Linked DNA regions of Homo sapiens: region 2 is linked to region 1. A link means that fine-mapping ties the variant in region 1 to the expression of a gene that starts in the linked region. Tissue or cell type: whole blood. Region 1 holds a variant in brackets; the other region holds the start of a gene. All regions are shown on one strand. Distances are from middle to middle.

Region 1 (2,749 bases):
CTCCCTCCTCTCCCTCTCTTTCCACGGTCTCCCTCTGATGCAGAGCTGAAGCTGGACTGTCCTGCTGCCATCTCGGCTCACTGCAACCTCCCTGCCTGGTTCTCCTGCCTCAGCCTGCAGAGTGCCTGCGATTGCAGGCGTGCGCCGCCACGCCTGACGGGTTTTCGTATTTTTTTGGTGGAGACGGGGTTTCGCCGTGTTGGCCGGGCTGGTCTCCAGCTCCTGACCGCAAGTGATCTGCCTGCCTCGGCCTCCCGAGGTGCCAGGATTGCAGACGGAGTCTCGCTCACTCAGTGCTCAATGTTGCCCAGGCTGGAGTGCAGTGGCGTGATCTCGGCTCGCTACAACCTCCACCTCCCAGCCGCCTGCCTTGGCCTCCCAAAGTGCCGAGACTGCAGCCTCTGCCCGGCCGCCACCCCGTCTGGGAAGTGAAGAGCGTCTCTGCCTGGCCGCCCATCGTCTGAGATGTGGGGAGCGCCTCTGCCCGGCCGCCCCTACTGGGAAGTGAGGAGCCCCTCTGCCCGGCCACCACCCCGTCTGGAAAGTGAGGAGTGTCTCTGCCCGGCCGCCCCATCTGAGAAGTGAGGAGCGCCTCTGCCTGGCAGCCACCCCATCCGGGAGGGAGGTGGGGGGTCAGCCCCCCGCCCGGCCAGCCGCCCCGTCCGGGAGGTGAGGGGCGCCTCTGCCCGGCCGCCCCTACTGGGAAGTGAGGAGCCCCTCTGCCCGGCCACCACCCCGTCTGGGAGGTGTACCCAACAGCTCATTGAGAACGGGCCATGATGACAATGGCGGTTTTGTGGAATAGAAAGGGGGGAAAGGTGGGGAGAAGATTGAGAAATCGGATGGTTGCCGTGTCTGTGTAGAAAGAGGTAGACATGGGAGACTTTTCATTTTGTGCTGTACTAAGAAAAATTCTTCTTCCTTGGGAAAAAAAAAAAAAAAAAAAGAAGTTGAGACTTGCCCAAGGCTGAATAGTTAACAAGAGGCTGAACCTGAAATCACAGCCTGGCTTTCACCCCTGGCTTTGCAGGCGGGAGATTTTGCACCCGGCTGATGCACTGCCTCTCACAGTGCCTTGGGCAGCTCCAGCCTGGGGTTTTCATTTTGCCCTAAGAACGGTCAGTGGAGAGTAAAGTCTGTTGGGCAAACTTCTCCCTTGCTGACCAA[C/T]GAAAGGCAAGCATCAAGAAATCAGGAAGAGGGAAGAGAAACAGAGCAAATGAGGAAAACAGAAAGAGGAAATAACAAGCTGGAACGCTGGTGGCTCTGTGGTTAAAAAGAGAGGAAAATATAAATGGAGAGAAAATGGTCATTTTGGTCAAGTATAAAAGGTAGACAAAGGTTGCTGAAGATTGAGAAGAGAAACAGGTTAGACACCATTCTACCCCACATCTTTCAGTACCTTCGCTGGCAACCCCAGGGTTGGAGGGTGGGGCCGGGAGCAACTCTTCACTTCCCCTAGAGCAGAGTTTCCCAAAATATAGCAGATATCAAAGATAATTTTAGATATTACAATAACAGGCATTAGTTGAATGGCAGGGTACAAAAATGAAATATTTTGAAATTGTTTTAATCCTTCTCTCCCCAATTGACTGAACAGTCTGAATCAAATGGAGTAGCAAAAGAAATATTTCACTTTCTTTAACTACCACCTTCCACATACTCAATCTCTCTCTCATTGTAGGGAAGAAAGATTATTCCCTCTTTCCAAATATTTCCCATATTCTTGGTAAGCCATTAACTTGAGGAAAGGTAAGTTTCTCTTAACTACCTCTTGGGCAGAGCCCATAAATATCTGATCAGTTTTAGTTACCAGAAAAAGCCAGTGTCGTTTAAATTTTTAATTTCATATCCAAATTAGTGTTTGCCTGGTGCCCTTCTGCATCCCTCTAGGTTCCTTTCTCCTCCGGGGAAGGGAACACATGCCCCCCTCCACAAGAGATGCCCTGTGGTCCTCTCTGGGCCGCACGGCCCCTCCCTGGCTGCTGATGCCCGCTTGTCCAGGAATCCGAGTTCAGACTCTCATGGCAGTGTGAGGGTGAGTTTTTTGGTGAGCTGTGCAGTTCCCCGACATGGGAGGGTCACCAGGGCTTGACCACTTCAACTGTCCCTCAGCTCCCATTCCTAGGGGTCACGATTAGGGTCATACACATCCAAACTCTACGGGGTGCACACTGGGCTCCCCAGGTCCCCTCACACTCCACAGGCTGCGAGCCGCGCCTTTCGGACTATCCCATTCTCAGCAATTCTCCCAGGCCCCTCACTGAACCTCCACGTCATGCTACCTGCCACCCGACCCCAACCCCTATCCCCAGCATCTCCAGCTCCGCTTCCACGGACTCTGACTGGATGATGATGAAGCCGCAGGAGCAGGTGAGCCACCGTGATAAGCCCTGAGGAGGTGTCTGGCCTCAGTCTTTCAGCTCTGCGGAACAGCGGGAAATGCGAAAGCGCTTCTCTGTTCTCGACCGTGGACCCCGGTCTCCAGTGTGATTGCATCTAGTATGGCAAAGCCGCCTCTCTCACGCTTAGCCTCCTTTCTGTCCCTACTCAGAGAGAGAGCAAGCCTTCTTTAGGCAACAGCATCCATCCACAAACTAAGACCATTTGGCCTTCCTCGTGCTTATTTTCACTGTACACTGTACAGTCATGCGTTGCTGAACAACAGGATATGTCTGGGAAACGCATCATCAGGTGATTTCATCATTGTTCAAACATCCTAGAGTGCACTTACACAAACCCAGATGGCACA
Region 2 (2,749 bases), 27 kb before region 1:
CTAGTGAAGTCCCATCTTCCATACGAAAGCCTTTATTTTTTCTTCCCATCTCACTCACCTAGCTGTTTTCATGCGACATATCAGGGATCACAGATACAACTCTGACCATTGTGTGGACACACTGAAACAATCGCAATCCAAAATCCTCTGTAGATAAACGTTAACTATTTCTCTTTAAAGCTGAACTCCTTTCTTACCCTCACAGTCACAAAGCTTTAAACTGGATGAATACAAAGGTGTTAAGCCGTTCCATCAGAGAGGCTTTTTATTAGATTTATTTTTACCCGTGGAAATACTTGAACATTCTGTAGAAGTAAATATATTCTAAACCTGAGGTCTTTAAAAGAAAGCTCTCAATTAATGCCCAATCAAATCCAGTCTTCAGGTCTCTCTGAAATTAGCTAAGTATGCAGAAACCAGTTGTAATTTTTAAAAGAGCGAAGAGGGAGAAGAAATAAACGACACCAGAACTACACATTCCAGACCAGCAGTTCAAGCACCACTTCGAGAAGGGAAGTAAAGATCAAGCTCGCCGTCTCCCTCGGCCACAGCAGGGCTCCTCCAAGGCTGCCCGCTCCGGCCCGCACCGCGGACCCCGCCGCCCCCGCCCCCTCCCGCGGCCTCCCCAACCCCCGGCCCTGCCGCTTCGCCTTTCTCGCAGCGGGGATGCTCAGGGTGCGACCTCGAAGCACAACCACTGATGGAATTCTGACACCCGAAGAGGACGATTTTTCCAACAGTTTACACGCCTTCGCGGGCACCTTCCCTACTCACTGAAACCCTCACGAAAGCGGTCAACGCACCCAGAGCGGGTTTCCTCGGTCTACGGACGCAGGCAAACAGCGCCACTTAAAAAATGCGCGTCCGCGACCCGGCCCCAGGCGGCAGAGGGAGCAGCGGGCGGCCTGGCGCGGGAGCTCCCCCGGGGCTCGCAGCATCCCTGCCGCGCGCGAAGGCCGGGGCCGCGTCCACCTGGCAACAAAGGCGAAGCCCGCCGCTCGCAGGTGGGAGGCCCGGAGCCGAGGCCCCGGTGCCGCGCGAGGGAGCGTACGGGGTCCGCGCGGGGCCGCCCCTGGAGAAAGCCCAGCCGCGGACTCCGGCGGGAGAGGAGCGCCCTGGCATTGTCCCGGGGGAGGGCGGGGCGGGCGCCCGGGGGCACTGGGTCCCCGGAGGAGGTGGCGGCGCCGCGGGCGGGTTGGGGGCTGGGTCGGCCGAGGCGGACGGCCGCCCCCAGCAGCCCCGACGCCTTTCATTTGGCCTCTGCGGCGGCTGAGGCAGCCCGACCTCCAGCGCTAAGCACTGCGCCAAGCAGGGACGGGCGGGGGAGGGCGCGCCAGACCCGCCGCAGAGCCGGACCCCCGGCGCCGCACCGCCGGCCCGCCCTGCCGCGGACCCCGCTGCCCGCCCGCAGTCCGCGCTCCTCCGGCGGGCGAAGGAGACGACTCTCCGGCGTTCGCCCGGTCCCCACCTCGATGTAGCCGGCCAGCGCCAAGGCAGGCGCCGTGAGCCCCACCAGCAGCAGAAGCAGGAGCCTGCCCGTGGCTGCGGCGGCCGCGGTCCCGGTGGCCGCCATCCCTCGCCGGGTCGCTCTAGCGCGCGGCTCTCAAGCTCACACACTCGGACTCCTCGCTTAGCACACCGCGACCCAGAAGCATCTAAAGCCAGTTCGCCGCCGCCCCGGGGGTTTTACACCAACCGGAACTGACTTCATATTACCACGCCCTCCTTCTGCGGCTCCCAATGCCGGCCCGCAGAACCCCTCAAGACCCCGCCCCCTTGCGGTCCAGACCCAATCAGGAGATGGAAGAGCCTGCTCCTCCCGCCCGGTCCAACCGCGCGCCCCCCGCCCGGCCCCGCCCCCGGCCGCGGATGGCCCCGCCCCCGCTCCGGACCCTGTGGCCGCCAGGCGCGGGGGCGTGCGCGCGGCGGGTCTGGGGCCGCAACCCTGTGGGCGCGGGGCTGGCTCTGGCCTCCGCCCCCCGGCGCGGTTATCTGTCCCTGCTGCGCTGGTCCGTCAGCCTTCAGCCTCCCGATACGGGCACGCCCCGCTCCCCTGCCCCTGCTGGGCATTCTTCAGACTCCTTTGGGTACCGCCCTCTTTTTGATTCTGGAAATGGTTTTATTAAAAACAGGATGAATTAGGAGTCCGGGACGGTCTGCCAAGGGCCGTCCCCCGAGGCAGGGGGAGGACCGCAGGAGGCAGCCATCGTCCTCCCCCGAGCCCTACTCAGGGCGCGCCTCTCCCGCCCTGCTCCGCCCAGGCCTCTCCGCCGGGTCCTCGCCTCTGAGTCCGGCCGCGCTCCGCACCCTTGGCCTCCGGTCTTTAGGCCTCTTGCCGACCCTTCCTTCCCAGCAGTTGCCCAGGCAGGGATAGAGACCAGGGGTGCAAGAACCACGCCGGCCTCACAGCCCAGGCCCCCTTCCTCGTGTGTTTTAGGAAGAGATCACGCCGCTTCTTCGGTTGAGACGCACTAGCGGGAGACCTGCTACTCTGCCTTCCTGCTCCGCGGCATTGCCACTTCAGTAGAGAAAAACGTCCTGCTGCCCCATTTAGCAATTGGCACAGCCTCGCCACCGCCAGGGCTCCGCTGGCCTTGTTTCCTTTCAGTCGCCTGTGAGTTAGGTACTGCCTTCTGAGAGACCTGGACTAGTCCCTTCAGGTTCAACTAAATGCATAACACAACCCTACCCCCAGGACGCTGACAATAGAAAGGAAGAGACTGTCCGCGGAGTAGACGAGTGCGCCTGT

What was found. PIP is the estimated chance that this variant, and not a neighbour inherited with it, causes the effect.
Region 2: it holds the start of APLP2, and the variant in region 1 is fine-mapped to the expression of APLP2 in whole blood (TOPMed, PIP above 0.99).

The regions. Positions count from the first base shown.
Region 1 is chr11:130,042,144-130,044,892 of GRCh38, reverse strand. No RefSeq gene overlaps it. Among named protein-coding and RNA genes, the nearest start is that of APLP2, 26 kb to the left of the region's middle. The variant C/T (reference allele first, on the strand shown) is at 1,168.
Region 2 is chr11:130,068,802-130,071,550 of GRCh38, reverse strand. APLP2 (amyloid beta precursor like protein 2) reads right to left here and starts at 1,657. Exons shown (of 17, transcript NM_001142276.2): 1 at 1,469-1,657. The coding sequence starts at 1,573. LOC107984432 (a long non-coding RNA gene) reads left to right here and starts at 1,902. Exons shown (of 2, transcript XR_001748444.2): 1 at 1,902-2,087; 2 at 2,438-2,749. RefSeq lists silencers at 769-1,228, 1,299-1,428, 1,819-2,048 and enhancers at 1,965-2,465, 2,466-2,749.